Homo sapiens: one gene and its partners. The protein of the gene in region 7 purifies or fractionates together with the protein of the main gene of each other region. This does not show direct contact. Each region holds a gene or a part of one and is shown on either strand. Other genes may lie near its edges.

What was found.
Region 1: the proteins of KCTD14 (region 7) and ACSF3 purify together in Homo sapiens (affinity purification with mass spectrometry; 3 studies listed by BioGRID and IntAct, with this or other methods). This does not show direct contact.
Region 2: the proteins of KCTD14 (region 7) and ANKS1A purify together in Homo sapiens (affinity purification with mass spectrometry; one large-scale study listed by BioGRID and IntAct). This does not show direct contact.
Region 3: the proteins of KCTD14 (region 7) and EMID1 purify together in Homo sapiens (co-immunoprecipitation; one large-scale study listed by IntAct). This does not show direct contact.
Region 4: the proteins of KCTD14 (region 7) and OXSR1 purify together in Homo sapiens (affinity purification with mass spectrometry; one large-scale study listed by BioGRID and IntAct). This does not show direct contact.
Region 5: the proteins of KCTD14 (region 7) and PDXDC1 purify together in Homo sapiens (affinity purification with mass spectrometry; one large-scale study listed by BioGRID and IntAct). This does not show direct contact.
Region 6: the proteins of KCTD14 (region 7) and DHFR purify together in Homo sapiens (affinity purification with mass spectrometry; one large-scale study listed by BioGRID and IntAct). This does not show direct contact.

Annotation. Positions count from the first base shown.
Region 1 is NC_000016.10:89,092,514-89,096,651, forward strand, and holds the start of ACSF3 (malonate--CoA ligase ACSF3, mitochondrial isoform 1 precursor), read left to right. Parts: upstream 1-1,338; 5' UTR 1,339-1,483; intron 1,484-4,138. UniProt on the Homo sapiens protein: Catalyzes the initial reaction in intramitochondrial fatty acid synthesis, by activating malonate and methylmalonate, but not acetate, into their respective CoA thioester. May have some preference toward very-long-chain substrates.
Region 2 is NC_000006.12:34,895,755-34,899,254, forward strand, and holds part of ANKS1A (ankyrin repeat and SAM domain-containing protein 1A), read left to right. Parts: intron 1-3,500. UniProt on the Homo sapiens protein: Regulator of different signaling pathways. Regulates EPHA8 receptor tyrosine kinase signaling to control cell migration and neurite retraction.
Region 3 is NC_000022.11:29,233,396-29,236,895, reverse strand, and holds part of EMID1 (EMI domain-containing protein 1 isoform 1 precursor), read right to left. Parts: coding exon 3,428-3,500; intron 3,283-3,427; coding exon 3,230-3,282; intron 2,760-3,229; coding exon 2,697-2,759; intron 2,592-2,696; coding exon 2,547-2,591; intron 1-2,546.
Region 4 is NC_000003.12:38,224,537-38,228,036, reverse strand, and holds part of OXSR1 (serine/threonine-protein kinase OSR1), read right to left. Parts: intron 3,467-3,500; coding exon 3,333-3,466; intron 1-3,332. UniProt on the Homo sapiens protein: Effector serine/threonine-protein kinase component of the WNK-SPAK/OSR1 kinase cascade, which is involved in various processes, such as ion transport, response to hypertonic stress and blood pressure.
Region 5 is NC_000016.10:15,034,026-15,036,428, reverse strand, and holds part of PDXDC1 (pyridoxal-dependent decarboxylase domain-containing protein 1), read right to left. Parts: intron 2,144-2,403; coding exon 2,051-2,143; intron 1,973-2,050; coding exon 1,876-1,972; intron 981-1,875; coding exon 876-980; intron 479-875; coding exon of another isoform or gene 414-478; coding exon 154-413; 3' UTR 1-153.
Region 6 is NC_000005.10:80,648,484-80,651,983, reverse strand, and holds part of DHFR (dihydrofolate reductase), read left to right. Parts: intron 1-2,489; coding exon 2,490-2,595; intron 2,596-3,500.
Region 7 is NC_000011.10:78,020,477-78,024,702, forward strand, and holds the start of KCTD14 (BTB/POZ domain-containing protein KCTD14), read right to left. Parts: upstream 2,801-4,226; 5' UTR 2,774-2,800; coding exon 2,684-2,773; intron 2,546-2,683; exon of another isoform or gene 2,067-2,545; intron 1-2,066.

The DNA of each region.
Region 1 (4,138 bases), on a different chromosome or scaffold from region 7:
AATTCTGACACCAGATCAAGCCTGTCCCAGTGGCAGAGGGTTGGACTTGCTTTTTCTGCATGATACCTAGCAGGGTGGCAACCAGAGGCACTAGAAGTTTGGGTTTGTTCTCCCACGCTCTGTGTTACAAACTTCCCCCAGATCCAGCTCCTTCCTCCCAGGAAAACCATCCTCGGGCTCCTGAAGTGCCCTTTCCTGAGCTTTCCAAGGACACAACTGCTGCCCCAGCAATCATCACAAGAGAGGAAGATGGGCATGGAAAATAATACACTTACAAAAAAACTGTGCAAGGTTCTGCAGATAATTTTTTTTTTTTTTTGAGACAGTCTCACTCTGCTGCCCAGGCTGGAGTGCAGTGGCGCAATCTCAGCTCACTGCAGTCGCCACCTCCCAGGCTCAAGAGATTCTCCTGCCTCAGCCTCCCGAGTAACTGGGATTACAGGCACCTGCCACCACTCCCGGCTAATTTTTGTATTTTTAGGAGAGACAGGGTTTCACCATGTTGGTCAGGCTGGTCTTGAACTCCTGACCTCGTGATCTGCCTACCTCGGCCTCCCAAAGTGCTGGGATTACAGGCGTGAGCCATCACACCAGGACGGTTCTGCAGATAATTTGTACTACTGTTTGCCAGTACATGTCTTTGTGTTATTAGTATTCATTTTAGGGGAAAAACCCTCAAATTTCAGCCAACTGGACTTTGTGTTTGGCTTTAAATGTTTTCCGCCACTGTCCATCCAACAGTCTCGCTTCATATTCGTATCCTGGTTCCCAAGTCCCTTCGAGGAGAGATTCTCAAATGCGGTCCGTTTAAAATCACCCAAGAAATACAAAAATTAGACAGGCATGATGGCGGGCGCCTGTAGTCCCAGCTAATTGGGAGGTTGAGGCAGGAGAATCACTTGAACCCGGGAGGCGGAGGTTGCGGTGAGCCGAGATCACACCACTGCACTCTAGTCTGGGCGACAGAGCGAGACTCCATCTCAAAATAATAATAATAATAAGAAAAAGTAACAACAATAATAATAATAATAAAATCACCCAGGAGCTCAGCGTGCAGACCCCCAGCCGCAAAGCCCAGAGAGCCCCTTTTGGGAGGACGGGGCGAGGCCCAGCAATCCGCGTTGGGAGTGGTCCCGCGCGCCGTTCTGATCTGGGCAGCCCTGGGCTAGCGGAGACCACGGCGCCTTGCCTCGGCCACGGCTCACGAGACGCCCGCGGCCCCGACCCCGCCACGACGGGACGGGCGGGACAGGGGAACACGCGCGCCCGGAACCCGCCGCCACGGCGCCGCGCCGGGGGGACGCGCTTGGGCGACGGACGCGCCGCGCCGGGGAAGCTGTTGGGCGCCGGAACTGGTCCGGCCCGACTCACGACCCCGCGGGACCCGGCCGGAACCCGGCCCGACCCCGGCGCGCGCGCGGCGGAGGACGAGGAAGAGTTGTGGCGAGGCAGATCCTGCCCCGTGGCCGCGGCCGTCTCGTAGGTGCGGGCGGCGGGGCCCACGGGACCGCGGCGGGGTCGGCCGGGCGCAGAGCTCTCGGGGGCGCGGGCTCCGGCGCCCGCCCCTGGGTCGCAGCTGGGCTTGAGCCGTGGCCCGTGGCGCGGTCGCTTCCCCGCGAGCCGCCTGGGGCCGGGCGTCGGCCTTCCCGGGACGCCGAGCCTCTCGTGTCCGGTGGGGAGCGGGGCCCCCGCGCGGGGTGCGGGGAGAGAAGCTGTGCGGACGCCGGGCCCGGTGATACCGTCGAGCCGGCGGGGTCCGTGTTCAGGCATCCTCAGAACGAATCGTCTTTGGTTGTGTTTGGAATAAATTCACTTCCATTTCTCATTGGGCTTCAGAAGTCACCCTTGAAGTACTCCCCGTTTTAGTTGTTTGCTGCGTGCACCTTGCTGGGCGCGTGGGGCACAGGTTCACAGCCGGCCTAGCCCCTGAGGGCATGTAGATCTATGAGCAAGCAATGGAGACGTGCGGCCGGCCGTGAAGTATTTGGAAGGTACTGCAGGCAGCCCATTCCCTGGAGAGAGGGAAGGTTTAAAGGGGTGAGGCCCGGTGCAGTCAGGAGTTGATGTTGCTGTCCTGAGTCTAAATTCCACCAGGCAGGCCAGGTGCAGTGGCTCATGCCTGTAATCCCAGCGCTTTGGGCAGCAGAGGCAGGAGGATCACTTGTGGCCAGGAGTTCAAAGCCAGCCTGGGCAACATGGTGAGACCCCTATCTCTACAAAAAAATGTAAAAATTAGCTGGGTGTGGTGGCGTACACCTGCACTTCCAGCTACTGGTTAGGCTGAGGCACGAGGATTTCTTGAGCCCAGGAATCGGAGGCTGCAGTGAGCCATGACAGCACCATTGCACTCCAGCCTAGGTGGCAGAGCAAGACACTGTCTCAATAAATAATAAAACTGAAAAAGAAGAGGTGATATTTGAACTGGGCTTGGAAGAATGATTAGGAATTTGCTAGAAAGGGAACACGTTTAGAGATAGGAACACGAATTGTGTCTGGGGCATAGTTGTTGCTTTCCCATCCTGGGAGGACAGACATTCGTGTTAGGGCCCAAGGCTGAGACCTTGTTGAGGAGGGGGTTCACATGGTGGACCCAGGAGCACGGGTGTTACTACCGGTGGACCCTGGGGACCCTGCGAGCTTTGTAGCGTGAAGCCTGGCTCAGGCTGGTGTCCTCTCCGCAGGTGTTGGAGGACATAAGATGAGGCTTCCCTTGCTCTTGCTCCTTTGGCTCTGAACCATCTCCTCAAGGCAGACAGAAATGGCGGATTAAACTGTGGGCTTGGGATAGTTGTAAGTGTCACCTTTCCAGATGGCATTTTTAAAATAGTATTTTTCTTCCTAAAATGGATATGGGTTTCAAGTGTATTTTTCCTTTTTGGTTTTTTTTATTTGAATGTACTGCTCATGAATGCAATGTGAATGTCTGTTACTTAAAAATGTAATTTTGAAAATAACCCTCCAAACCACAGGTGTGATGCTGAAACGCATCCTGCCCCGCAGGCCGAGCACAGCCCTCCTCTGCCCCACGCTCTCATCGGGGCAGCCGACAGGAGGAAGTGCCGGCATCCACTTCAAACACAAGGTCTGGGGGGGCGGGGGTGTCAGGTGTGGTGGTGAACAGGTCAGGTGTCGTTTTATTCATGTTGAAAGCAGCCCTTCATTTGAATGCGAGTGTCATTCTCATCTAGTAATTTTTGTTGCGAGGCTCCATGGGGAGCACCCTGCTGAGCACGGCGCGGCCGTTTGTCTTCTGCCTGGCCTGTGCCGGGCCATTCGTACATTCTCACGTGAAGCCTGTGAGGCAGGTCTTGTTACTGTGCCATCTTAGCGGTGGGAAGTGAAGGGCTAGGCCAGTGAGGAAATGAGGACAAAGGCAGCAGCCGTTCAAGTCGAAGCCTGTGGTGACTAACTCTGCCATTAACCAGCACTCCAGTTAGGAGGGAAAAGATGCATCCCGCTGCGCTGCATGTGTGTTCCCGAGAAGCCCCAGTGCCTTAGTGGTCTGATCTCAGAACCTGATGGCTAGAACACCGAGAGGTCCTGCCTCCCTCCCCGAGGGCTGGAGAGCCACTGTTTTCAGTGGTTCCAGTACGCCTTCACCAAGGAGGCTGTCCTGGCTCAGGCACCTTTCTCAGCTTCTGACTAGAGTCCTTGCCCAGCCACGTGGTGACGCCGCTGACCTCGGGTTATCAGGGTGCTGCGTAGCAGGGGTATGAAGCTGGCTGAGGGTGGAAGCCCCTGACTGAACTGCATTTGTCTGGTGGGCAGTGTCCCTCCACACTGTGCTCCTGGTGGTGATGGGGAGCCCCACGGTAGAAGGGGTCCCAGTGGTTGAAAGGTGAGGTTCTCTCTGAGGAAGCTGGGGTGCCTCTGGACCGGGAGGTGTGCAGGAAGACCGCGCACAGCCATCTGCCCTGAGTAGGCTCTGTCTGCGTGTTCGAGGCAGGGCTCTGATCCGATGACCGTGAAGATTCAACCTCTGTGCTGAAGAGAACTGATGACTGGGCACTTCATTGTCCCAAGCCTGAGGGACTGAAAAGCTGGTTTGATGGGGCTGGTTCCGTTTTCCACATGCTTGGTGGGAGAATAAATCAGCACCTCGTTGGAGGGGACTTTGTCAGTATTTCTCAAAATTAAA
Region 2 (3,500 bases), on a different chromosome or scaffold from region 7:
AAAATAGTTTTTCAAGAATGTCTTTCTTTTTTTTTTTTTTTTTTTTTTTTTCTGAGACAGTGTCTCTCTCTCTCGCCCAGGCTGGAGTGCGATGGCACGATCTCGACTCATTGCAGCCTCCACCTCCCGGGTTCAAGCGATTCTCCTGTCTCAGCCTCCCGAGTAGCTGGGATTACAGGCGCACGTATTTTAGTAGGGACGGGATTTCACTGTGTTGCCCAGGCTGGTCTCGAACTCCTGAGCTCAGGCAGTCTACCCTCAGCCTCCGGAAGTGCTAGGATTACAGGCGTTAGCCACCGTGCCTGGCCTTTTTTTTTTTTCTTTTTTTTTTCAGAGACAGTGTCTCACTCCTTCATCCAGACTGGAGTACAGTGGTGCAATCTCAGCTCACTGCAACCTCTGCCTCTCAGGTTCAAGTAATTCTTGTGCCTCAGCCTCCTGAGTAGCTGTGATTACAGGCATGCACCACTGCACCTGGCGAATATTTGTATTTTAGTAGAGACAGGGGTTTCACTATGTTGGCCAGGCTAGTCTCGAACTCCTGACTTCAAGTGATCTGCCTGCCTCGGCCTCCCAAAGTGCTGGAATTACTACAGGTGTGAGCCCCCACGCCCAGCCAAGAATGTCTTAAAATACTCCCTTTAAGTGTGATTTTGTTGGGAGGGCAGCCCTGTTCCTGCATTTTGGAATTGCTGTACTTACATTTTTGCTTTCTCTAAAGCAGAGTGTGGTTCCCATGTTAAAAAACAAAAGGAAACAAAAAAAGGTAACATGCTTGGAAATGACTTTTGTGGTAGTTACTTTATATGTAAAAATCTAGAAGGTGCCTAATCTTAAACTGAGTAAGGCATTTACTTAGAATTAAAGATAATTTACCCAGCCTGGGCAACATGGCAAGACCTCGTTTCTACAAAAAATAAAAAAACTAGGCCAGGCGCAGTGGCTCACGCCTGTAATCCCGGCACTTTGGGAGGCTGAGGCGGGTGGATCACCTGAGGTCAGGAGTTAGAGACCAGCCTGGCCAATATGGTAAAACCCCATCTCTATTAAAAATACAAAATCAGCTGGGTGTGGTGGCCTGCATCTGTAATCCCAGCTACTTGGGAGGCTGAGGTAGGAGAATTGCTTGAACCTGGGAGGCAGAGGTTGTAGTGAGCCAAGATCGTGCCATTGCACTCCAGCCTGGGCAAAAAAGAGCGAAACTCCATCTCAAAAAAAATAAAAATAAAAAATTAGCTGAGTGTGATGGCATGCACCTGTGGCCCCAGCTACTCAGGAGGCAGAGACGCAAAGGTGGGAGAATTGCTAGAGCCCAGAAGGTGGAAGGTTGAGGCTGCAGTGAAAAGAAAATTTACTACAAAGTTTAAGATTTAAAGTCAGTGGTCTCCCTTTTTCCTGCATCCTCCAATTGAAGTTCAGTTTTTACTTTCTTAGTTGCAAAAATTAGAGACAGGAAACAATGAAACAAGCTTGTGATCTGAAGAATTTGACTTGTATCTAGTAGCTTCAGCATGTTCACGGGTCATAGGAGGTTATGGTCCCAGTGAAAGTTACATTCTTGGCCAGAAAAATCCCTTCAGGAGGTTCTTTTTCCCACATTGGATTGTTCACCCCAAACAGCTGTGAATTCTGGTTTGCAAAAGGAAGTCCAGGCTATTTCTGCCCTAGTCTTTCATAGGGAAAGTAAATTACTGGGTTTTTAGCCCAGAAACACTAAGGAAACCCCAGAAGTAGACAGTGGAGAGTTTGTTCTTAGAAAAATCAGGCTCTCCTGTGGGTAGGAACTTGGTCTCTTTTTTGGAGAGCTCTCAGAAAATATTTCCCACACTGATTTCCAAAGGATTATTGGGAGATTTTCTGTGGTAGAGAAAATTATATCGTATAATATGTTACATTCATAGAACATCTTCACATAACTTTGGTGTGGTTAGAGTTAATGGTAGTAATACTGGAAATTATATGGTATGTCTTCATATTTATCCTTTCTCAGTAATTTGTAGATCAAGTTTGTTTAGTTTACAAATCAAAAAAGAGTTTTTAAAACAAGTCAGTTGTCTCTGCTTTGAAACAAGATAGTTGTATCTGTTTGTGATATTATTACCACTGATCCAGGAAGCAGAACTGCCTCCTGGCCTACTTAAGTGGTGAGGACATACTATGGTGGCTAAGGATCAGGTTCTGACCCAACTCTGCCTTGTGACTTAGGCAAATTAAGTCACTTTTCTGCGCCTCTGTGTCTTCATATATATAATGGGCCTGGGATGGTGCCTATCTTCTAAAGCAGCATTAAATGAGCTAAAGGATGTAAGGCATATAATGCCTGGCACATGGCAAGGGTTTGGTAACCCTCAGCTGCTAGAATCATCTAATGGGAGCCAGGTGCTTGCCACCCTTGATGAATCAGAGTGAGGACCCTGTTAAGGACATATCTTTTATTGATGTTGCCATTTTAACATTTATAATAATTCACAGCAGAAGCTCCCAACCTTTTAAACTATGAAGAGTCCCATAGTTTTAAAAAGCCTGAAAATTGGCAATGGTGGCAAAGTTACAAAGCAATCCAGGTCCACAATCCTTTGTTTGAAACCTTGGGGCCAGATATGTTTTCAGGGTGCTGACTCAATATTGTATATTGAGTCCCTAGTGGGACTGTGGCAGCACCCTGGAAACATTGTATTTCTACAGCAAAACCTGTAAATATTGACTAAATGGGATAAATATGAAGCCGCTTCATATCAGCGTAGGTCAGGTTTTGCAGCTAAATGACTGCTGCTAACTTATGAAAATATATTTTCAGAGCTTTTTGGATTTCTGAATTGTTGATAAGGGACTGTAAACCTCTGCCTTTATGGTAGAAAAATTGCAAGACAAAGAAATGCACTAAGAAGAAAATAAAATCAGTTATAATTTTACCACCTACAGAAATTAACTTGAAATTTTGGTGTACAATCTTGTTTTTTTCTGTGCAAACTTTTTTTTTTAACAGAAATGACATTATTTTGTATATACTTTGTCTCATGTTTTCACGAACTATATTGTGAAAACACTTTCCTATATTTTCTGTCCTCCTCAACCTCATTTTAAATGGATGTGATATCCGTGGTATATATGAATTGTAATTAATTTAACCCCTTTCCTGACATGGAACATGAGTTTGTTTTTCGTTTTTTGCTATTAGAACAGCTCTGTGATGAACATGCATGTGGATAAGTTTGTGTGTACATTCTGCTTATAACATTTGATATATTCAATAGAATGGTAGGTGTAGTTTCAACATTCAGCCATTGCAGAAATCAACAGCTGAATATTCAAATTGCACCTCAAAATCAACAAGAAACATACATGTTGTTGAATTTGAGGACTCATAGTAATTCTGAGGCCCCTTACATCTCCTGGGTCCTTCTGACTGGGAAGTAATATACTGATTTATGGTTGCTAAATACTACTTATATTCAGAAAGTAACCTTTGTGCAAGCCCAGGACTTTTTAATGGTTAACTT
Region 3 (3,500 bases), on a different chromosome or scaffold from region 7:
GATCCCGGGAGGCGGAGCTTGTAGTGAGCCGAGATCCAGCCACTAGACTCCAGCCTGGGCGACAGAGCAAGACTCTGCCTCAAAAAATAAAAAAAAAAAGAAAAAAAAGAAAGAAAATAGTAATATGGTAGCTGTTAACCCAACTATATAAATAACACTTCATTTATTTAGTTATTTTTTATTTTACTGATTGACTTATTTTTTTGAGATGGAGTCTCACTCTGTCGCCCAGGCTGGAGTGCAGTGGCACAATCTTGGCCCACTGCAACCTCCGCCTCCCAGGTTCAAGCAATTCTCCTGCCTCAGCCTCCTGAGTAGCTGGGATTACAGGAGTGCGCCACCATACCTGGCTAATTTTTGTGTTTTTAGTAGAGACGGGGTTTCACCATGTTGGCCAGGCTGGTCTCAAACTCCTGACCTCAGGTGATCCCCCTGCCTCCACCTCCCAAAGTGCCAGGATTACAGGTGTGAGCCACCGTGCACAGACTATTTAGTTATGTTTTAGAGGCAAGGTCTGGTTCTGTCACTCAGGCTGGAATGCAGTAAAGCAATTATAACTGTCACCTTAAACTCCTGGGCTCAAGCAATCCTCCCAGCTCAGCCTCTCAGGTAGCTGAATCTACAGGTGCACACTACCACGTCCAGCCAATTTTTAAATTTGTTTTATAGAAAAAGGGTCTCATTTTGTTGCCCACTCTAGTCTCAAACTCCTGATTTCAAGTGATCCTCCTGCCTTGGCCTCCTGAAGTGCTGGAATTACAGGTGTGGGCCACTATGCTGGGCCTCAATAATCACTTTAAATGTCAATGGCCTAAATGCAGCAAATAAAAGATGAGGATTGTTAGAATGGACCAAAAAATAAGACCTAACCGTAGGTTTTCTATAAGAAACTGACTTTAAATATAACCACAAAACAGATTAAATGTAAAGGAATAGAAGTTAACTGGGCATGGTGGTACATGCCTGTGGTCCCAGCTACTCAGGAGGCTGAGGTGTGAGGATTGCCTGAGCCAGGGAGGTTGGGGCTACAGTGAGCTATGATTGCACCACTGCACTCCAACCTGGGTGACAGAGAAAGACCCTGTATCAAAAAAAAAAAAAAAAAAAAAAAAAAAGCTTAAATTCTAGAAAGCTTTAATTCTAGAAAGAAAATTAATTTTAGAAAGAGAAGATTTTAAGTCAGGCACAATGGTGCACACCTGTAGTCCCAGATACTTGGGAGGCTGAGGCAAGAAGATCACTTAAGACACTTCATTCACTATGTGCCCAGGAGTTTGAGTTCAGCCTAGGCACATAGGGAAACCCTGTCTCTAAAAAAGAAAAAAGAAATCATAAAAAGTACTCAATCCAAAAGAAGACAAGAAAAGAAAAGGGAAAAAAGAAACACAAAACAGAAGGAATAAATAGAACATAAACAGCAAGATGGCTAAACAGAACCATATTAATCAATTATACATATCATTAAATATAAATTAACTAAACAGTCAAACTGTTTTTAAACAGCAAGACCCAAGTCATATGATGCACTTTTTTTTTTTTTTTTTTTTGAGATGAAGTCTCACTCTTATTGCCCAGGCTGGAGCACAATGGTGTGATCTCAGCTCACTGCAACCTCTGCCTCCTGGGTTCAAGCAATTCTTCTGCCTCAGCCTCCCGAGTAGCTGGGATTACAGGTGCCTACCACCATGCCTGGCTAATTTTTGTATATTTAGTAGAGACGGGGTTTCACCATGTTGACCAGGCTGGTCTTGAACTTCTGACCTCAGGTGATCCACCCGTCTCAGCCCCCCAAAGTGCTAGGATTACAGGCGTAAGCCACCGTGCCCGGTCCACACTTTCTTACATTTAATAAAATTTATATACATATTTTTATATAAAGACAGAGTTTTGTCATGTTGCCCAAGCTGGTCTTGAACTCCTGAGCTCAAACGATCCACCTTCCTCGGCCTCCCACAGTGCTGGGATTACAGGTGTGAGCCACCACACCCAGCCATGATGCACTTTAAATATAAAGTTACAGGTTGAAAAAAAAAAGGATAAAAAAAGATATAACATGCAAATAGCAAGCATAAGAAAGCTGGTGTGCTATTAAAAGCACACAAAGTCGATTCAAGGCAAGTATTATCAGAGATAAAGATATTAATTTCATAAAGATAAAATGACCAAGGAGACATTAAAATACTAAATGTGAATGCACCTAATAACAAAGACTCAAAATACGTAAAGCAAAATTCACCAAATTAAAGAGAGAAATGAACAGATCTACAATCAGAATTGGAGAGATAGAGTGTAAATGAAATACAGAGTCAAAGAGACAGACGTACAGAGGGAAAGAGAGAGATACAGAGAAACAGAGAGCCAGAGTGAGAGAGACAGAGGCAGCCTAATCCAAAGAGGACAATGAGTCTCAGAGACAGGGAGCATCTGAAAATAAATGACAAGACAGGGAGGGTTAGAAGCTCTGGTTGCAGGGGATGGAGTCACAGGAGGAATCTGGGACTAAGGGATCCTGCAGGGATGAATGCGGGACAGACAGCAACACTTACCCGCTGCCCAGCAGAGCCTTGGGGGCCAGGCTCCCCACGCAGTCCCTGTGTAAGAGGGAGGAGACGAATGGCGTCAGCTGTTGAGGACTCTGACCTGGGGCCCTCAGGACTCCCCAGAATTCCCCCACCTGGGGCCACCTGGGTACTCACTCTCTCGCCCTTCTCTCCTGGGTGGCCAGAGATTCCTTTGGGTCCAGTGGGGCCTGGGGGTCCCTGAGCAACAAGACAGGGCCTCAGCCTTGTGTTGGGGCAGGATGGAGTGGGCAGGGGCTTGGGAACAGAGGTGTTGGGGAGGGCGCTCAAGCTTGGTCTGGGCCTCTGGGTTCTTCACCATACACCCAGCACACCGCAGTCAGTTCATACAGCTCAGTGTTAAAAGATCTGATCCTGGAGTCAGACAGTCCCACCACAGCTCATTGCCATGTGCTGGCACAAGAATCTCTACTTTTCTTGGTCTTAGGTGATAACCACACATGGTTCTCATTACTTGGATTGAATAAGATTTATGGAAGGTAGTTTGCATATTAAGTGCTCAATAAATACTTGTTGAATGAATGAATGGAAGGATGAATGGATGGATGGATAGATGGATACAAGGGTGGATGATGGACAGATGTATGGATGTATGCATAGATGGAAAGATGGACAGACACATGGGTGAGAGTACAAGGAGAACTACTCACTATGTGACCAGGACTCCCAGGGACACCTGTGGGGCCAGGAGGCCCAGGGGGACCTGGAAAAAGACAGGATGTCCTAAGGGCCGGAACAAAGTACAATCTCAGGAAGTGCCCCATCAGCTCCCTCCTGATAGCCACAAACCCTATTCCCTCTGCCATCTACCAACTTCACCCTTTACCCCTGGCCTGGACTCAACTTACCCATGGGCCCTGGAGGGCCTGGAGGCCCAGTGGGTCCCTGGGGCCAGTGGTTGTTGGTCTCAGTGAAGGTGTT
Region 4 (3,500 bases), on a different chromosome or scaffold from region 7:
CTGTACCATCAAAGTTTGTGTAAGTACACTCCACGATGTTCAAACAATGACAAAACTGCCTAATACACATATTACAGAATGTATCCTCATCATTTTAAGTGACACATGACTGCATTTTCTCTGAGCATTTCACTAAACGCTGGCCTCAACTGTTGTGTTATTGGGGAAGTAGCTGTCAAGTCTACCTGCTAATCCTCAGTAGGTAATCTGTTCCCCGAGGTTGCCTGTAGGAGTTTGTCTTTGCTTCGTGTCCAGTAGTTTCACAGCAACTTGTACAAGTGGAAGAAGGGGGACACTGCTTGGAATTCTGGGGGGATGGTTCTTTACTCTGAGAATATAGGTCTTTCATCAACTCTCGAAAATTCTCAGCCATTATTTCTTTGAATATCGCTTCTCCTATACTCTCTCTAGTCTTTCCTGGTAAGTTCATGTATATGTATACGTACATTTGTGTGTGTGTGTGTGTGTGTGTGTGTGTGTGTGTGTGTGTGGATGTGCATACACACAAACATACTGAACCTTCTCAGTCTACCCTCCAAATGTTAATATTTCTTTCATATTCCCTCTTTGATCTTTCTGTGCCACATTCTGAGCAATTTCCTCAGTATAGTGTAGTCTGATTAAAACAGGTTAACTCTAGTCCAATTGCATGGGTCAGAATTCTGATTCCACCATTTATTAGCTGTGTGACTTTGGAGAAGGTTACTTAACCTCTCTGTGATTCAGTTTCTTCATTTGTAAAATAAAGAAAATAACAGTGCTATCCTCAAAGGATTACTGTGAGAATTAAACAATATATGTTAAGTGTTTACCACAGTGCCTGGTACTTGATGAGTAAATAATCTCTTTTTTGTTTTATTGGTTGTTCTGTTTAACCAGTCCATTGTGCGTGTTATTTTAACTTAGCAATGTTCTAAACAAAGTTTAATTTTGGTTTACAAACTGGAATAGATTTTCTATAGCTTCCAGTTTTCTTAAAGTTTTATAATAATTTTAGACTTACAGAAGAGCTGCAAAGCTAGTACAGAGTTCCTACATGCCATTCACCACCTTCTGCTATTGTGAACCTTTTACATAACCACAGTATAATAATAAAGAAATCAACTAAAATATCAACACTGGTACAATACTATTAACTAAACTACAGACTTCATTCCATTTCTCCAGTTTTTCCACTAATGTCCTTTTTCTGTCCCAGGATCTAGTATAGGATACTCTTGCTTTCCGTCTTCACGTCTTCTTAATTTCCTCCAATCTGTGACAGTTTCTTAGTCTCTCTTCCTTGACAGTTTTGAAGAGTGCTGGTCAGGTATCTTGCTGCATATTCCTCGATTTGGGTTTGTCTGATGTTTTCTCATTATAGACCGAAGTTACGGATTTGGAGGAAGAATACCTCACAGGTTATATATATGCCCTTCTCATTGCACCATATCAAGAGGCACATATCAGTCTTATCAATGTATTATTAATAGTGATGTTAACCTTGGTCATTGGGTAGAGGAGGTGCATTGTAAAGTTGCTATTTTTCCTTTTTCATACTCTACTCATCAGAAGTGAGTCAACAAGTCCAGCTCACACTCATGGAAAGTTTTAAACATTAATCACTGTATTTTTCATTTCTGGCATTGCTATTTGGTTCTTCTGTCATAGTCACAGTCTTCTCTTGTGGGTCTGATTTCTTCTAATTTTAATTATTTTCAATATACTTAATTTTGTATCTTTTCAGATTTTCACTGCATTACCTAAATCTTCTGGAGCACTAATCCTTCTGCTTGTGTCTGCTAACTAGTTCATAATGCATTGTTTCACTGTGTGTTTCTTAATTTTGGATTGTGACCTTATTACAGTGGGGCATTATGTTCAGGAATCCAATGGGAGCTAGAGTTTGAAAGTGTTCTTCCAGTGCAGCTCTGTGACTACTTCCGTCAAAAATAAAAACTGATTTGGTAAAGCTTTTTTAACTTTCTAATCCTGTGGGTTCCTGGATAACATAGGGAGTATAGACTCTAAACCTGTGGAATGTCCAGGTTGAAGGGCTTGATTATTCAGGAGAGGTTTTTGTTGTCTCTTGGTGATGACAATTTTTATTCTTGTCTATCCTTTTACTAAGGATACTGACATCTGAAGTTCTTAGCTTTAAGAAGAATCTCAGTTCAAACTCCCCACTGGGTGGACCCAAGATCTCACTTCCAGTTTTCACATGGGAGTTATAAATCCAAATCAGTAGGTTACCAGAATGAATAGTGACCCACTGAAAACAGCCATGGGATTAGTTCACAATATTTCTTCTTTAACTTAGGGCTTCCTCATTATTTCTGGCATCTGAGAATCTTTAAGTTGGATAGATTTTATCTGGCATTTCTAGGTATTTGTAACAGGATAATTTTGTTCCTTTAACCAACTAATTTGATAAAAGAAAAGTGTTTCCTGTCTTTTTTAACTGTTTACTCAGAAACAGAAAAAAAAAAATTATAAAAACACAGGTATAAATTTTGCTACCTGTTTTTCTTACCCTTTCCAATATTTCCAACAATAAATTCTGAAACCCTATTACATACACTAGAGATGTGATCAAGAACATCAAAGTCTTTCCCTTTTAATGATCTTTAGAGAAACAAAAATTAAAGAACTCAGTGCTAAGAAGCTGAGTGGAATATATATGTGAAACAGACAGATAAGATTCAGAAGGAACAGAGCCCTAAGTTAGGAATCAGGACTTTGAGATTCAAGTCCTACTCCTATGACTAAGTATCAAGTGACCTCAAAAATAAAAGGTTGTACTCAATGATCCCCAACATTCTACGATTCTGCTTAATTCATGAAGTTACACATATCGGATGTTCTTATTTATTTGCTCACTTGTCATTCAATCTGTCTAACATTGATAAGGAAGCTATTTGAATTTTTGGTCCACTTACTAAAATATCTTTCTAACATGGAAATAAGTATGATTATTACACTAAATATAAATTTTCTATGTGTCTTTCCTTTATTAATACTGTAAATGGCATTAAGACATTCATTTATAAATTTTAAATGCAAATTAAAAACAAATCTCTCCACTAACTTGGCATTTATTAATACAGAATTCACAATGTACAACTTTGTAAGAAATTAACAAGGAAAAAGCTGAACTATTTAGGGTACACTGTATACTACAAAGAAGGCAGAAATCAATTCATTTCCAATCCAGTATAATGGTCTCTGTATACTTTTTTAAAGTTTATATTTAGTTCTTTTGAAAATAATTTCCTGTACATATGAGTATGTGATTCTTAGACTTCTCACAATGTTTTATTAGAGAGAAAAGTAGACTTTTTCTCATATTTTACCTTTTTTCTGGATCTTTTTGAAGGCACAATGAAATCATTTTTCTAAATGATTTTCCATATTTTTTCAGCATTTCTTTATCTTGAACACCAGTTTCCAAAGAAGGAGGATCGTTCTGCAGTGTCAGCATTAAAACCTGCAAGAATTTTCAATATACTATAAACTTGTGA
Region 5 (2,403 bases), on a different chromosome or scaffold from region 7:
AAGCCTACCTTTCAGGCACATATTTGTGCCAAAATCCCAGTGAAGCACAAACAACAGTAATTTATATTAGTATGTGGCACAGTTCACATTTCCAATAGAACTTCATCTTCCCTGAAACAATACTCAGTACAGTCTCAAACCACACAATGAGTCTCATCTTAAGCTCTCCGGTCCTTCTACCTGTGAGTGGTCATCTTCTGGGTGTGGGACCCCTTTCTGGAAGGCCTCGGTCTGGTCGGTGTGCTGAGGGCTGGGAGCCCCTGGGTGTCCCTCAGTGCTGCTGGCCTCGAGGGTGATCTGCTCCGGCCCACTGGATAGGCGCTCCACCTTTTCTAAGTCTTCAATGTGACTGACTGAGCTGGTCTCACTCAAAGCATCTGAACCTCGCAGGGACCTTTTAAAAGGCTTCTGGCCTACAGAAAGGGCAGACAGACTGCGCTGAAACTCAGTGAGGATACTTCTGCAACACAGGCTGTCTCTGCAACAGATAATTGCTTTATTTCACAACACAGCTTCAGCAGAAACCTTTACTGGCTCTGAGGTGTTTTAGGAGATGAGAAAACCGAGAGCTGCTAGCTTGACACCAACATGCTCCCCAGGCCGGGGAACTCTAAGGTCATCTTCATTAGGAAACGCCCAGGAGGGTAAACACCACAGTGACAATGTCATCTTTCAAGACCCCAACTTCCCCTTAGCGCACTACCGTGGGATTTCTTCAAGGCTGAATCCCACGGCTACCAAGATGGTTAAAGAGATGGTAGTAGTTGGTCTTAAGAGAAATAGACCTCTGGAGTTCAAGAACCCAGAAAACAAACGCAAGTAACAGTCAACAGGGGAAACCTGTTACCTGAACTCGGTGCAGAGGCGTCACTTACCTGGAAGCCTCTGCTTGGTGCGACTGCCCGAGGGCGTTGGAGGCAGCGTGACTCCTGCACCTTGTGCTTTGTAGACATATATGGGTTCTGTGGACTCCAGAGAGCCTGCGGGAGAGGAGAGGGCTGGGTAGAAGCTACAGGCACAGGCTGCCCTTGAAGACACCACCTGCCCTCACACAGCCTTGCTCCCCAATAACCTCCTTCCAGCCACTGAGCCTGCCACAGACTGGTGGAGAGAAGGGCACTTATGAATGTGCCGTGAGCTAGAGAAAGCCACCTCACAGGGCCAGTACCGCCAGCATCCGCCAGCAGTATGGCGTAAGCACACCCAGGGAGCCAGGCCCAACAGGGAAACGTACTGTAGCCACAAGAAGTGGGTGCCTTTTTGCTGAAGGCTAAGGCTTGGCAGATTAGAAATCAGATTATCTTTTGCTTTCATGACAATGGAGTCATCGTTTCCTGGGAAAGAATGAAGGAAGGGGCTCGAGTGTAGGAAATTATTTCCTTGGTAGAACAGGAAAGGAGTCACGGACTGTTAACACCCTCCCCACATTCCAGCGGCTGAAACGCTTGCTGGCTGCCTGGTTCAAAATAAACCGTGCCAGCACTCCATGCTTCAGTCTCTGCATTGCCACTTGCAAAAGCTGTCCTCTGCTGGGGCAGAACACACATGAAGACAAGAAGTATTAACCCTGAACCAAAATGCCCAAGACACAGCACCCTGAGAGTCTGCACGGCTGAGTGGGCGTGTCCTCATGGCCTTGCGGTGGTGACAGCTGTGGAGAGTGGGTAGCTGCTTCCTTGCTGTTTCAGCCGCCAGGGTGCGGTGGGGAGGAGGACAGGGCACACCAGAACTTGTCTCCTCAGATGTCCGGCCCACACCCAGTGATGAAGAACGGGAACCAGGGCGGGATTCTCAGTGGGAAGTGTTGGGACCCAAGGGCATTTGGTGAAACCTCCCAAGGTCAGCAAGACCTGGGAAGAGGCTATGCCGTCCTACCTGCTGTCAAGTTAAAAGTTCTTCCCTTCTGTAAAGCCTGGACCGGAGAAAACCAATTCAGCACGGAGCCCACTACAGGGATCTGCCGCAACACCCCCTGCAAGACAGGACCAGAGTTCAGGGCCACCTGGCCTCACGGCGGCTCCCCCAGCCTGCTGCCCATCGGGGGCCTCACCTCTTCCAGAAGCCGTTCTTCACTTGCCTTCTGCAGCTCCACTTGAGCTTCCTGAATGCCTTTCCGAACCACTTCTGTCATGTTTTCCAGAAGCTGTGGCAAGACCAAGAAAGACATTACTTGTTTAAGGTTCTCACCTGGGGCCCAGAAGAGCTAGTAACACAGCACTGAGGGAATTTTTCAAAAGCAGGTCAATGAAATCCTGCATTGAAAAGCCGGCGTAAAACGAACAGAAACTCAAAGACAAGCAGATAACATGCTCATAGAGGCCTAGGCAGACACACCTTGGTGACCAGCCTCATTTGCTACGTATTCTTGAAAACAGAGAAGTCATAAAGTCAGGCTGGAAAGAA
Region 6 (3,500 bases), on a different chromosome or scaffold from region 7:
CACCACGATCAAAAGGAACAAGTATCAAGCACGCAGCAACGCAGCTCAAAACGCTTAGCCTAGCCACACCCCCACGGGAGACAGCAGTGATAAACCTTTAGCAATAAACGAAAGTTTAACTAAGCTATACTAACCCTAGGGTTCGTCAAGTTCGTGCCAGCCACCGCGGTCACACGATTAACCCAAGTCAATAGAAACCGGCGTAAAGAGTGTTTTAGATCAATTCCCCTCAATAAAGCTAAAATTCACCTGAGTTGTAAAAAACTCCAGTTGATACAAAATAAACTACGAAAGTGGCTTTAACGCATCTGAACACACAATAGCTAAGACCCAAACTGGGATTAGATACCCCACTATGCTTAGCCCTAAACTTCAACAGTTAAATTAACAAAACTGCTCGCCAGAACACTACGAGCCACAGCTTAAAACTCAAAGGACCTGGCGGTGCTTCATATCCCTCTAGAGGAGCCTGTTCTGTAATCGATAAACCCCGATCAACCTCACCACCTCTTGCTCAGCCTATATACCGCCATCTTCAGCAAACCCTGACGAAGGCTGCAAAGTAAGCGCAAGTACCCACGTAAAGATGTTAGGTCAAGGTGTAGCCCATGAGCTGGCAAGAAATGGGCTACATTTTCTACTTCAGAAAACTACGATAACCCTTATGAAATTTAAGGGTCGAAGGTGGATTTAGCAGTAAACTAAGAGTAGAGTGCGTAGTTGAACAGGGCCCTGAAGCGCGTACACACCGCCCGTCACCCTCCTCAAGTATACTTCAAAGGACATTTAACTAAAACCCCTGCGCATTTATATAGAGGAGATAAGTCGTAACATGGTAAGTGTACTGGAAAGTGCACTTGGACGAACCAGAGTGTAGCTTAACATAAAGCACCCAACTTACACTTAGGAGATTTCAACTCAACTTGACCACTCTGAGCTAAACCTAGCCCCAAACCCATTCCACCTTACTACCAAACAACCTTAACCAAACCATTTACTCAAATAAAGTATAGGCGATAGAAATTGTAAACCGGCGCAATAGATATAGTACCGCAAGGGAAAGATGAAAAATTATAACCAAGCATAATATAGCAAGGACTAACCCCTGTACCTTCTGCATAATGAATTAACTAGAAATAACTTTGCAAAGAGAACCAAAGCTAAGACCCCCGAAACCAGACGAGCTACCTAAGAACAGCTAAAAGAGCATACCCGTCTATGTAGCAAAATAGTGGGAAGATTCATAGGTAGAGGCGACAAACCTACCGAGTCTGGTGATAGCTGGTTGTCCAAGATAGAATCTTAGTTCAACTTTAAATTTACCCACAGAACCCTCCAAATCCCCCTGTAAATTTAACTGTTAGTCCAAAGAGGAACAGCTCTTTGGACACTAGGAAAAAACCTTGTAAAGAGAGTAAAAAATTTAATACCCATAGTAGGCCTAAAAGCAGCCACCAATTAAGAAAGCGTTCAAGCTCAACACCTATCATCCGAAAAATCCCAAACATATGACTGAACTCCTTGCACCCAATTGGACCAATCTATTACCTTATAGAAGAACTAACGTTGGTATAAGTAACATGAAAGCATTCTCCTCCACATAAGCCTACATCAGACCAAAATATTAAACTGACAATTAACAGCCTAATATCTACAACCAACCAACAAGCCATTATTACCCCCACTGTTAACCCAACACAGGCATGCCCACAAGGAAAGGTTAAAAAAAGTAAAAGGAACTCGGCAAACCTTACCCCACCTGTTTACCAAAAACATCACCTCTAGCATTATCAGTATTAGAGGCACCCCTGCCCGGTGACATATGTTTAACGGCCGCGGTACCCTAACCGTGCAAAGGTAGCATAATCACTTGTTCCTTAAATAGGGACTTGTATGAATGGCTCCACGAGGGTTCAGCTGTCTCTTACTTTCAACCAGTGAAATTGACCTGCCCGTGAAGAGACTTTTAAGTTCAGTTTTTTAAAGGAGATCCACTAAATGTCAGGATGTCCATCATATCTATGCACATAGATAAGTCCTCAATGTCATCTGTGAGTTCTTGGAAACTGTGACTTTAAGTGAAACAATGTAGAGCAAAACCAATTTTACCATAGGCTACTGGATGTACACAAGAGTTAAGTTCCTAGGGCATATTGCTGGTCACAAAAACATCACCAAACTTCTAAATGAAGGCCAAAAACACTTCTAATAGAAAACACTGAAGTAAATATGAGCTATACATACATTTAAGAAGAATAATGTGCATGTCTTTGGGATGTGGAAGGAAACTGGAATACCTGGAGAAACCCCATGCAGACATGGGAAAAGCATGCAGACTCCACACAGACGGTGGCCCTGGCCAGGAATTGATTATTTTTCTCATCAACGTTAGAAGAAAACGATGTTATTCAAGGACATGTTGTATATAAATACATGAAAATATATGTATATTCCCAAAATATACTTAGGCTTTCTTTGTGATTTTATAGGTAAACAGAATCTGGTGATTATGGGTAAGAAGACCTGGTTCTCCATTCCTGAGAAGAATCGACCTTTAAAGGGTAGAATTAATTTAGTTCTCAGCAGAGAACTCAAGTAAGTACCTTAACATAAATTCACCACAAGAAAATCATGTCTCATAGTGGAGATCAGTATATGATAAAATGAAATTGTATAAAAGGAGCTATTGATGAAGCTGCTTAATATCACAAAGGTGATTATAGAAAATTAATAAGCAGTTATTTATACTACATGACAATAACTTATTCTACTACCTGAGTAATTGATTTCATCACCTTGAAAAGTTACATTAAACATTAAATAGCTCACTGTGGTATCAGATTTGCAAGTTATCTTGAACCATCATTCAGTAGGCCCAAATATAAATTATACAGTGTAATCAATAACCTGTAGTTTCACATAAAGTCAAAACAACTATTTTTTGGGACTTGCTAAAATTAAGTGATGATCCCCTTTCTGGACCCAACCCTAAATGCAATAAAATGTGAATTTTAGGATGGGCTGAAATGGGTCATAATCTTCTACTCTGTTATTCCTAGTTAACCACAATACCCAATAATATTTTGTACTTAACATTCATTACCCAGTGTCTGAAGGTAAAACATTTCAAAGTATTGAAATGGTTCTAGAGATCCTGGAGAGAAGCGGGTATCTCCAGTTAGCCTCTGCTAAGAATTTTCCTGTCCTCCAACCCAGGGTTGGAGTCAGTAGTTCATGAAGCCTGGATATGCCCTGGTGACTGGAGAGTGGGAGGGGTAATCATATTAAGACTGCCCAGGAAGTCAACTCCAATGGCTTGGGAGGTTGAGGGGTGGCCAGAATTGGACCTGTGTTAATCCATTCTCATGTTCTTATAAAGAACTGCCCAAGACTGGGCAATTTGTACAGGAAAGAGGTTTAATTGACTCACAGTTCCTCATGGCTGGGGAGGCCACAGGAAATTTAAAATCATGGTGGAAGGGGAAGCAAACGCATCCTTC
Region 7 (4,226 bases):
AAACAATAGAGCTGAGAAAAATAAGCCCAGAACCTCTGATTCTTTCTCCCATAAACCTCAAGGCCCCTTGGCAGGGCTGTTTGGTTAACCCTGAAGTCACCTCTGTAAAGCTCGCAGTTAAATGCAAAGCTGCAGAGTTTAACCCTTGAATGGACCAATATGTTCTCATTACTCCTACACCACTGAAAGCTCTCAGGTCCTCCTAATGTCCCCATGTTACAGGCAAGGAAAGCTCAGACAGAAGTCACACAGCTAGGATGTGATGAAGTTGGAGCTGAGATGATACCTGTATTAGCATGACTCCAACACAGTAAGGGTGCCTCACCGCCATCCTTCCCAACATCCTGCCCCCCTACTGCCAATACTTTGATATGTGCCCAGGGCCCTTTGCTTTCCGTCTCTGGAACTAAGCTTAGTCATCTGTGAAATAGGGAGGCAAAATGGACCAAAAGAATGCTAAGCTTCCCCAGCTCTGAAAGTCTAACAGATCCAATCACATCAAATATCCTTTCTGAAGCTAATTTCCAGATGCTTCAAAAAAACAGGCTGGGTGCAGTGGCTTACGCCTGTAATCCCAGCACTTTGGGAGGCCAAGGTGGGAGGATCACTTGAGGCCAGGAGTTCAAGACTAGCCTGGACAACATGGCAAAACCCTATCTCTACTAAAAATACAAAAAATTAGCTGGGCCCTGGTGGTGCATGCCTGTAATCCCAGCTACTTGGGAGGCTGAGAATTGCTTGAACCCGGAAGGCAGAGGTTGCAGTGAGCCAAGATTGCACTACTGCACTCCAGCCTAGGTGACAGAGGGAGACCCTGTCTCAAAAAAAAAAAAAAAAAAAAAAAAAAAAAAAAGTTTCCTGCACTGACATCTTCAGCTCCATTTCTTTATCAAACAAGACCTCAGCCGTGTTCCTAAGCTTCTTTTTGTTTTTTGTTTTTGTTTGCTTGTTTTTTGTTTTGAGACAAGGTCTCACTCTGTTGCCCAGGCTGGAGTGCAGTGGTACAATCTCGGCTCACTGCAACCCCCACCTCTTAGGCTCAAGCGATTCTCCTGCCTCAGCCTCCAGAGTGGCTGGGACTACAGGTGTGTGCCACCATGTCCAGCTAATTTCTCTATTTTTTATACAGACAGGGTTTTGCCATGTTGGCCAGGCTGGCCTCGAACGCCTGAGGTAGGTGGTCCACCCACCTCTGCCTCCCAAAGTGCTGGAACTACAGGCATGAGCTACCACGCCTGGCTGAGAGTACGTTTTCTGAAGTACAAATCTGATCCTGTCACTCCCTGCATTAAACACTTGAGTAACTTTTCATTCCCTTCCAGATAAACAGCAGACTCCATAACAAGGTTTAGAGGCCCTTTGCAACTAGGCTGCTACTTCACCCCTCGCAATCAACTACCAGAACTGCCTGCTGCTCCCCACTCCTCCAATCCAGAGCTGGGCAAGCCCCCTCACCTCCAGAAGCTCACTCACTTGGCCATCCGCACTCCTTTCTCTGACCCCACTCATCCTTCAGATGAATTCCTCTGGGAGTCCTTCGGGGTGGGTTGTCTCACTGTGATCCCAGAAAGTCCTACACTACTATACTTCCACTGGCCTGGCAGTTCTTCCCTTGCAATTCCCTGTTTCTTCATTGACTGTGAGGTTCCTGGCCAAGTGCTGTGTTTCATGCCTGTAATCCCAGCACTTTGGGAGGCTGAGGTAGGAGGATTGCCTGAGCCTAAGAGTTTGAGACCAGCCTGGGTCTCACCAACATGGCGAGACCCCATCTCTATTTTAACAAACAAACAAACAAACAAAAACTCTGTGAGGCTCCTAAGGGAGGGGAATATCCTCTGATTTACAGGAGCATCTAGTATTCTGTTCAAGGCCAATCTTGCCCTACCTGGCATCATGCACAGTGCCTTACACTTCCCCAGTAATTCATTCAGGCATTTATGGAACACCTAGGGTGGTCCTGGCACTAGGCATGTGGCTTTGTCAATAGCCAACAACAATGACGTGATCATGGCCCTATTAGAGAGAGCCACGCTGCCCTGCTGCTGGATCTGCTTTCTCTTCCTCCAGGTCTTCAGGATGACTCTCAGTGCAGGAGAGAACCCGAATGTTCTGCTCCCAGAGTGCACGCAGCCTTTTCCCCATCCTCCTCCCCAACTCCCCTCACCCAAGCTGGGGACCAGGCAGGCAAGCAGAGGGATTTGGGACCCAGCCAGAGGGCAGGGGCAGGCTGAAGACCCAGCCAAGGGGCAGGGGCAGGCTGGAGAGGGCTGCAGGTGAGGGAAAGATCCTCTGGCCGAGCTGGTTGGATGGGCTTCTCCCACCGGGAGCAAGGGAGAAGGTGGGGCAGAGGAGGAGTCGTGGGCTAGGACAAGCCGGTGGGGAAGAGACAAGGGAAAGGAACTAAAGACCCAATGTAGAGGGAGGAAGCAAAAGGGCAAAGAGGAAAGGCTGGACAGAGCCAAACCAGAAAGGGACACCGAGGCGCGAAAGGAGAGTGATCCCAGCAGGAGGGACGGCAAAGATTGAAGAGAGCGACCAGCCCGAGGTGAAGGGGGACAGCGCGCCAGAAGCAGGGGGCTCGGGCGTCTGGGAGGGACGGGCAGGAGAAACTGGAAGGGAGGGAAGAGGCGGAGGGAAGAGGCGGAGGACAGAGGCGCGGGGACGCAGCTAGCCTCGCACTTACCGTTGGCCGCCTGGGCCGGGGGGACTGGGGCAGAGGGGTCTGGCTCGTCATCCTGCCCACTGGCCGCTCCACTGCGCAGCCCTGCCACATGCAGATCACTTGGGCCAGCGGAAGTGCCCCTGGCTGCCCGCCCCTAGGTGGGAACACCGAGGCTCAAGGCGGGACGGGGCTGAGCCAGGCGTGGCTTGCAGTGAGACTGGGCCAAGTGCAGAAAGAAATGGACAGTCTGTCTATTTGGGGCTTCTAAAAGTTGTTAGGCCCTGAGAAGGGCTGACTTTGGAGACCGAGAAATGGAGCAGACCCCTTAAGGACTGACCTTTTGATATAGATTAATTTCCTTCCTTTTCTTTCTTTCTTTCTTTTTTTTTTTTCAGAGACAGGGTCTCACTCTATCGCTCAGGCTGAAGTGCAGTGGCGGATCAGGCTCACTGCAACCTCAACCTCCTGGGCTCAAGTGATCCTCCCACCTCAGCCTCCCAAAGTGGTGGGATTACAGGCCTGAGCCACGGCAACTTGCCTCTTCCTATATTTTCTTTTACGCTTAAATAAATTACTTAAACATATTGCTTGAATCCCGTTATTAAAGTTGACATTAGTTAATGCCCCTCTCTGGGCCTCGGAGTTCCCAGTAGTGAAATGGGGGAGGCAGAAGGAATTGACATTGACTGACATTGACAACCAGAGACTTTCTATTCCCTACAGTCCTAGGGAGTGAAAGATCCGCAACACCCATTTTACAGATCAGAAAACTGGCGCTCTAGGAGGTAGGGTGGTGTTAAAATGTAAAGTCTGAGGATCAACAAAACTTTTTTAAGAGTATACTTGAGTAACAGGCAATTCTTGAATCGGGGAACACCAGATGGAAAGAGGTTGAGTGTTCCCATGACAATGCATCAGAGGCAAATATTTATGGGGAGAATATGGAAGCAAGATATTTTGTTGGGGACAGGCATGGTGGCTCACGCCTGTAATCCTAGCACTTTGGGAGGCCAAAGCGGACAGATCATTTGAGGTCAGAAGTTCGAGACCAGCCTGACCAAAATGGTGAAACCCCGTCTCTACTGAAAATACAAAAATTAGCTGGGTGTGATGGCATGTGCCTGTAATCCCAGATACTGTGGACGCTGAGGCAGGAGAATCGCTGGAACCCGGGAGGCAGAGATTGTAGTGAGCTAAGATTGCACCACTGAACTCCAGCCTGGGCAACAAAGATTCCCTCTCAAAAAAAAAAAAAAAAAATATATATATATATACACACACACACACACACACACACACACACACACATATATATATATATACATATATATATATAAAATTGGTTACAGTTAAAAAATCTCCTTTTTTGGTTTCCTTTGTTGAAAAGTCCACAGCTACTTAATTGTATGTTAGTTGGCTGCTTGTGGTTGGCTAATGTTAAGTTTCGTTTCTGTCTAACATTAGCATTTACCAGAAATGACTCTATTAGTCAGGGTTCTACAGAGGGACAGAACTAACGGAATAGGGTTGGACACGGTTGCTCACGCCTGTAATCTCAGCACTT